Linked DNA regions of Homo sapiens: all the other regions are linked to region 2. Evidence: fine-mapped expression QTL. A gene starts in region 2. Each other region holds a variant in brackets. All regions are shown on one strand. Distances are from middle to middle.

Region 1 (2,842 bases), 100 kb after region 2:
TAAACCCACTCTTCTCTCACCCCTCAGAAAGGTCACTGAACTCGTCTTTTACCCGATCATCCGAGGTTGAAGATGGAAGCTGCTTCTCACCCAACTGCCCTGAGAAACAAAGAACAAGGCTCCTGTTACCAACACGGAGCACAGAAAGGTCTCACCTGCAAGGAGGCATGATTCTACTATTGATGACTAGAAGGGAGACTGGGGTCCCTGACCCTCAAGTTCTCCCCACCATGGCCCCATCCCCACCAAGGGTGCTATGCAGCCTCTGATCCTGCCCTGCCAGCCCAACGTCCAGAAGCACACAGGCAGCAACAAGCATCAGAACCCTCAGGAACAGCAGAACCAGAAAGCCCAGTCCTTCCACTGACTCCGATCCAGTCCTTCTAGGACAGCCTGGACTTGGTGGATGTTCTGAGACATTTAAAAAATTACTAGGCCAGGCACGGTGGCTCATGTCTGTAATCCCAGCACTTTGGGAGGCCGATGCAGGTGGATCACGAGGTCAGGAGATCGAGACCAGCCTGGCCAACGTGGTGAAACCCCATCTCTATTAAAAATACAAAAATTAGCCGGGCATGGTGGCACACACCTGTAATCCCAGCTACCTGGGAGGCTGAGGCAGAAGAATCGCTTGAACCCGGGAGGCAGACATTGCAGTGAGCCGAGATCGCGCACTGCACTCCAGCCTGGGCAAAAGAGCAAGACTCCGACTCAAAAAAATAAAATAATTAAAAATTACTATTCTCAGTCCGGGTGCAGTGGCTCACGCCTGTAATCCCAGCACTTTGGGAGGCTGACGCGGGTGGATCACAAGGTCAGGAGATCAAGACCAACCTGGCTAACATGGTTAAACCCCGTCTCTACAAAAAATACAAAAAATTGAGCTGGGCGTGGTAACTCATGCCTGCAATTCCAGCACTTTGGAGGCCGGGGTGGGCGGATCACCTGAAGTCGGGAGGTCGAGACCAGCCTTACCAACATGGAGAAACCCCATTTCTACTAAAAAATACAAAAATAGCCAGGCATAGTGGTGCATGCCTGTAATCCCAGCTACTCGGGAGGCTGAGGCAGGAGAATCGCTTGAACCTGGGAGGCAGAGGTTGTGGTGAGCTGATATCGTGCCACTGCACTCCAGCCTGGGTAACAAAGAGTGAAACTCCTTCTCAAAACAAATACAAATACAAATACAAAAAAATTAGCAGGGTGTGGTGGCACAAGCCTGTAATCCCAGCTACTCGGGAGGCTGAGACAGGAGAATCACTTGAACCCAGGAGGCAGAGGCTGCAGTGAGCCGAGATTGTGCCACTGCACTCGAGCCTGGGCGACAGAGTGAGACTCCATCAATAAATAAATAATACTGTTCTCTCGGCCAGGCCTGGTGGCGACAGAGCGAGACTCCATAAATAAATAAATAAATATTACTGTTCTCTCGGCCAGGCCTGAAGGTTCATGCTTATAATCTCAGCCTTTTGGGAGGCCAAGGCAGAAGGATCACTTGAAGACAGAAATTCAAGACCAGCCTGGGCAAAAGAGTGAGACCCTGTCTCTACTTAAAATAAGTTTTCTTTGTTTTGTTTTTTTCTTTTTTAGACAGAATCTTGCTCTGTCGGTCAGGCCAGAG[C/G]GTAGTGGTAGAATCTCAGCTCACTGCAATCTCCGCCTCCCAGGGTCAAGCGATTCTCCTGCCTCAGCCTCCCAAGTAGCTGGGCCTACAGGCAACCACAGCCACATCCAGCTAATTTTTTGTATTTTTAGTAGAGATGGGGTTTCACCGTGTTAGTCAGGATGGTCTCGATCTCCTGACCCCGTGATCCGCCTACCTCAGCATCCCAGAGTGCTGGGATTACAGGCGTGAACCACTGCACTTGGCCTAAAATAAGTTTTAAAAAGTATTGTTCTTGGCTGGGCGCGGTGGTTCACACCTGTAATCCCAGCATTCTGGGAGGCTGATGCAGGTGGATCACGAGGTCAGGAGTTCAAGACCAAGCCTGGCCAACATGGTGAAACCCCATCTCTACTAAAAATACAAAAATTAGGTGGGCGTAGTGGCGCGTGCCCATCATCCCAGCTACTCGGGAGGCTGAGGCAGGTGGATCACGAGGTCAGGAGTTCGAGACCAAGCCTGGCCAACATGGTGAAACCCCATCTCTACTAAAAATACAAAAATTAGGTGGGCGTGGTGGCACGTGCCCGTCATCCCAGCTACTCGGGAGGCTGAGGCAGGTGGATCACGAGGTCAGGAGTTCGAGACCAAGCCTGGCCCACATGGTGAAACCCCATCTCTACTAAAAATACAAAAATTAGGTGGGCGTGGTGGCATGTGCCTGTCATCCCAGCTACTCGGGAGGCTGAGGTAGCGGTGAGCCAAGATGGCACCACCGCACTCCAGCCTGGGCTACAAAACGAGACTCTGTCTCAAAAATAAATAAACACATAGATAGATAGATAAGTAGGTAAATAAATAGATAAATAGGTAGATAAGTAGATACATAGATATACAGATAGGTAGGTAGATAGAGAGAGACAAAGAAGTAGGAAGATAGATAGGTAGGTAGGTAGATAGATACACAGATAGATAGAATTGTTCTCAACACACTGCATACAAGTTTACAGAGCCAAGCAGCTCTAAGATGTGACACTCACAATCCCGTTCCTACCTGAGGCCCCCGAGCCGCACTGTCTCATCTGTGCACCCGTATCTAGCTAAACTATCTGGGTAGCTGTGTTTCTGTTTGGGACAGAGTCTTGCTCTGTCACCCAGGCTGGAGTACGGTTGTGCGATGTCGGCTCACTGCAACTTCCGCCTCCCAGGCTGAAGTGATTCTCGTGCCTCAGCCTCCAGAGT
Region 2 (2,842 bases):
ATGAGCAGGACCTGGTGAAGGAACAAGGGCCCTTGGGTGGGGCACAACGGCCCCCACCCCTCGTGGCTCTGTAGCTTGCTTCTGTCTGGCCTTGCCCTGGCCCTTCCTGGTCCTCCACATAGGCCTGCTCATGCAAACCCACAGCTCTCAGGCCTGGAGAGAGTGCGGCAAACACACAGCCTGCCTCTGCCCCCCGGCAGGGTACCAGCTTTTGGGGTCATATCACATGCTCCAAGCCAGCACTCCAGCTCTCCAGGGAAGAAATCACTTTCGGTTTTTTTCGTAAAGGGTAAATAATCACTTAAGCTCACCATTCTCACTAACTTCAAGTATCTTTCTAGGGCTTAATTGTTGGTTCTGGTTGATGGTTAAGAATAGAAACACCAAGCAGGTTGTCCCCCCAACTTTACACACCCCTTCCTCTCCCAGTTAAACCCAGGAATTTAGTGTCAGTTCAGACGCCAAGTGAGGCGCAGCCCCCCACCTTCCACCCAGGAGAAAATGCCCCAAGGGGACGCTTCTGTCTCCTTTCCTGCTGAAGGCAGGGGAGGAGTCGCCCCAGCAAAGGCCAGCTCCGTGCTCCCTGAGCCACCGGCCCAAGTCCCTCTCCCGGAGGAAGCCAGGCCACTGGGGAGCAGCCCGCTCCGCGCTGGGAGAGGCGTCAGGTGGGGGGGTCCGGGAGGGGAACGTCCAGGGCCGGGGAGGGAGAGGAAGGAGGGAGAGAAGGAGGGAGGAAAGAGAGAGGGAAAGAGGGACGGAGAGTGGGAGGGAGGGAGCTCCGGGTCCCGCAGAGAAGGGGATCTCCCGCTCCAGAACCGGTCGCAGCCTCTCCGCCGGGACCACCCCCACCCAGGGGGCGGGACGGACGCCCCAGACCGCGGTCCCCGCCGGCTGCCCCGCCCCCGGCCTCACCCGCGGCCTCGGGCTCCCGCGCCCCGACCGAGCCGTCCCCGCGCAGCAGGAGGTCCCCGGTATCCCGCAGGCGCCGGCCCGGCGAGCCCCGCAGCCCGCGGCAGCCCTGGAAGCACACGGCCCACGCCTGCTCCTCGTTGAGCGGCTGCTCGTAGGCCTTCAGCACCTCCTCCAGGGACAGCTCCCAGGGCTCCGGCCGCCCTGCGCCCGCCGCGGCGCCGCCGCAGCTGCCCGCCCGGGCCATGGCGGGGCCGTCATCGCCTCCCGCGCGCCGGACCCGCGTCCATGCAGCCGCGCCTTCCGCCGCGCAGGGTCAGCCTGGCCGCCCCGCCCCGCGCGAGCGCCTCAGGTTGGGGGCGGGGCGGCGACGGGGGCGGGGCGCGGAGGGCGCGGGGGGCGGGGCGCGGAGGGGGAGGGACGCGGGGCGGGGCGGGGAGTGGAGGGCGCGCGGGGAGAGGCCCGGAGGGGGACGGGTGAGGGGCAGGGCGGGGCGCGGGTAGGTGCGGAGGGGCTGGGGCTCAGGGCTGGGGACGCGGGGGCGCGGGGCCGAGGCCGGGGTGCGAACCCCTCCGGGGTGCTGGGCAGGACCGGGGGGAGGGTTGGGGGCTGCAGACATGGGCCAGGGCCCGCGCGCTCGGACACGCGGTGACACCCCCGGCGCTCCCCCGCAGACCCAGACGGCCGATGCCCACAAAAGCCCGGGCCGGCATCCAGCCCGGGACACTGCGGTGACCGCGGGGGGCCTGGGAGGTTTGCCGCTGGGAACGCGGGAGGGAGCCGGGAGGAGCTGAGCAGACAAAGCCCGCAGTGGCCTCCCCGAGCCCCGGGCAAGGTGACCTCCAGGGGTTGTCGCAGGGTGGCTGGGGTGAGGGCGACTCCCCGCATCCGGCCTTCGGGTATGAAGCCCTTAATAAATGCCTCTGCCTAGCAGGGAATGTGCCTGCAGTGACGTCTCCAGGGTGTCCGTGAAAAATAAACACACACGGTTGGCCAGTGATGGCGTGCATCGCATTTGGGGCGTGTTTGTGTCTTCAGGCCGGGTCACTCCTGGACACTGGGTGTTTGCCTGAGGGACGCAAGGGGAACTCGGCTGGGGCTCATCCCGAGGCCTCTTCATAGTTGTGCCAGATCTGAATAAGTGGGCAAGAAAATGCAGTTGGGGCATAAACGGTCCCAAGCCTGGGTGCTGCCAGTACCACCCGGGGGCAAGAAATGCAGATTCCTGGGCTCCAGGGCTGGAGATTCTGATGCAGGTCCGAGGTGAAACTTGGGGCACTTAAAGTTCGCTGGTCTCCCAGGAGTTCTGGACCTGCCTGGACAACACAGTGAGATCCCATCCCAGAAAAGAAGTTCCACAATGATTTTTTTTTCTTTTTTTTTTTTTAGAGACAAGGTCTCACCCAGGCTGAAGTGCAATGGTACAATCGTAGCTCACTATAACCTCAAATTCCTGGGGTCAAGTGATCCTCCCACGTCAGCTTCCTGAGTAGATGGGACTAAAGGCATGAACCACCACGCCCAGCTGATTGTTTTTATTTTTTGTGGAGATGGGATCTCACCATGTTGCCCAGGCTGGTCTTGAATTCCTGGGCTCAAGCAGTCAGGCCACCTTGGTCTCCCAAAGTACTGGGATTACAAGCGTGAGCAACCGCGCCCAGTCCAGCTGGACTTTTCTTTTCTTTCCCTTTCTTTTTTTTTTTTTTGAGAAGGAGTTTTGCTCTTATCGCCCAGGCTGGAGTGCAGTGGCGCAACCTTGGCTCACTGCAACCTCTACCTCCCAGATTCAAGCGTTTCTCCTGCCTCAGCCTCAAAGTAGCTGGAACTACAGGCGCCCACCACCACACCCGGGTAATTTTTTGGGTGGTTTCGCCATGTCGGCCAGGCCGGTCTCGAAATCCTGACCTCAGGTGATCCCCCTGCCTCAGCCTCC
Region 3 (2,500 bases), 60 kb after region 2:
AGTGAGCTCTTCTTCCACAGTCGCGTCTTCTCTCCTCTCTCTCGAAAAGTGACACATGCTCGTTTGATAAAATTAGAAGAGACAGACATGCAGACATACCACCCAAAGATAACCACTTTTTAGCATTTTGGTATATATCCTTCCAGAATTTTATCTGTCATTTGTTTATAATATGCGTGCGTTTGTTTCTTTGTTCATAAAAATGAGATCATATTATACTAAACTGCTGAAATTAATAGTAGATAGTAACTGTCTATATCGTTAAGCATTCTTTGATGTCCTGGTGAGAGCTGCTTTGTTTTGTCTTGGTCCCTTGTCTGGCCCTTGGTTGGACCAGCTCCCTCTGGTCAGGTTCTTCGGCACCCCATGGTGAGTAGCTTCCCAGTGTGTACACCTCGGGCTGTTTCTCTAGGGCTCAGCAGATGGGGCCATGTGCTGAGGTGAGGAAGGACCCTGTGGTTAAGAATGGTCTGCTCAGTGCCTCAAGGGCTCCCTGCAGCTGCCACGCACAGGCAGAAGCCAGGACAGAATCCCTTCAGCTGCCACTCAGAGGCGGAAGCCAGGACAGAGGGCTGGGAGACTCTGGTGGGAGTTGCTGGCTGGGGCTTGGCTTGTAGCTTCTGGTCTCTTGGGCAGAGGTAGCCCAGGTCGGGACAGAGCCCTGTTGCGGTGCCGGAGACCCTGTGCGGGAAAGGGGAGATCTGACATTATGACAGGGTCTGAATAACAGAGAACTTAGAAGAGGCGCAAGAAATGTACGTGGAGCAAGGAGAGGGAGTCAGATGGCAGCTGTGCGGATCCCACACCTCAGACATGGGCCTCGGGGAGCAGGCACTCGGTACTCCGGGGATACAGAGTCCCTCCTAGGCGCTTGGCCACACCAGACAGTCCCCACTCACCCCAGGCCCCAAACACTGAGTACTGGGTGTTGGCATGAGAGGCACACAGCCAATGGAGAAGTTGGGAGCTGGTGAGGAGGGAGGCATCCAGGTGGCTTGGGGGAGACAGGGCCATCCTCTCTTAGAAACACAGAGATGCCTCAGGATATATATCCAGGTGAAGAAAGCAAAATACTGAACTCGGTCTCAGATGCTACTTTTTGCATAAGAAAGGGAGAATGAAATATATATTTGGTGTGTGTTTTGTTTTTTTTTTTGTTTTTTGGTTTTTGGTTTTTGTTTTGAGACAGAGTCTCACTCTATCGTCCAGGCTGGAGTGCAGTAGCGTGATCTTGGCTCACTGTAACCTCCGCCTCCCGGGTTCAAGCAGTTCTTGTGCCTCAGCTTCCTGAGTAGCTGAGACTACAGGTGTGCACCACCATGCCCAGCTAATTTATGTATTTTTAGTAGAGATGGGGTTTTGCCATGTTGGCCAGGCTGGTCTTGAACTCCTGACCTCAAGTGATCTGCCCACTTCAGTTAGGATTACAGGTGTGAGCCTCCACGCCCAGCTCAAATATGTATTAGTAAAACAGAAGTATTAGAAC[T/C]GTAAGAACACCATGACAGTGCTTTGACATCTCCATTGCCTCATGGAATCTCATTCTGAGCTTCCTTGGTTACAAGTGAGAATTTTTCACATGGGTATTGCTGTAGGTATGTATGTTGAGTAAATGACACAGGTCTCACTGTGTCCCCCAGGCTGAAGTGATCTTCCCACCTCAGCCTCCCAGTAGCTGAGACCACAGGTGCACACCCACACACCCAGCTAGTGAGAGATGGGGTCTCACTGTGTTGCCCAAGCTGGTCTTGAACTTCTGGGTTTAAGTGATCCCCTGAGCTGTGATTGTGCGACTGCACTCCAGCCTGGGCATCAGAGTAAGGCCCTGTATAAAACAAAAAATAAACCGAGGGCTGGGCCAGGCACGGTGGCTAACGCTGTAATCCCAGCACTTTGAGTGGCTGAGGTGGGCAGATCACTTGAGGTCAGCAGTTCGAGACCAGCCTGTCCAACATGGGGAAACCCCGTCTCTACTAAAAAAAATTAAAAACTCGACTGGTTGCAGTGACTCATGCCTGTAAGCCCAGCATTTTGGGAGGCTGAGGTGGGCGGAGCACGAAGTCAGGAGATCGAGACCATCCTCGCTAACACGGTGAAACCCCATCTCTACTAAAAATACAAAAAATTAGCTGGGCATGGAGGCTGGCACCTGTAGTCCCAGCTACTCGGGAGACTGAGGCAGGAGAATTGCTTGAACCTGGGAGGTGGAGGGTGCAGTGAGCCGAAATCGCACCACTCTACTCCGGCTTGGCAACAGAGCAAGACTCCCTCTCAAAAAAAAAGCACTAACAACAACTACAACAGAATCAGCTGGGCATGGTGGGAGATGCCTGTAATCCCAGCTACCTGGGAGGCTGAGGCAGGAGACTCGCTTGAACCCGGGAGGCAGAGATTGCAGTGAGCCCAGGTGGTGCCACTGCACTCCAGCCTGGGCGGCAGAGCAAGACTGTCTCACAACAAACGAACCAAAAAACGAAGGACCAATGCTCAGGCCATCCAGTTC

Evidence for each region. PIP is the estimated chance that this variant, and not a neighbour inherited with it, causes the effect.
Region 1: its variant is fine-mapped to the expression of SPIRE2 in whole blood (TOPMed, PIP 0.92).
Region 3: its variant is fine-mapped to the expression of SPIRE2 in whole blood (TOPMed, PIP above 0.99).

What each region holds. Positions count from the first base shown.
Region 1 is chr16:89,724,536-89,727,377 of GRCh38, reverse strand. ZNF276 (zinc finger protein 276) reads right to left here. Exons shown (of 11, transcript NM_001113525.2): 5 at 21-99. Among named protein-coding and RNA genes, the nearest start is that of ZNF276, 4.4 kb to the right of the region's middle. The variant C/G (reference allele first, on the strand shown) is at 1,622.
Region 2 is chr16:89,826,865-89,829,706 of GRCh38, reverse strand. SPIRE2 (spire type actin nucleation factor 2) reads right to left here and starts at 1,232. Exons shown (of 15, transcript NM_032451.2): 1 at 913-1,232. The coding sequence starts at 1,156. RefSeq lists a silencer at 1,089-1,178.
Region 3 is chr16:89,767,338-89,769,837 of GRCh38, reverse strand. It overlaps FANCA (FA complementation group A), which reads left to right. Exons shown (of 43, transcript NM_000135.4): 26 at 1. Among named protein-coding and RNA genes, the nearest start is that of ZNF276, 47 kb to the right of the region's middle. The variant T/C (reference allele first, on the strand shown) is at 1,487.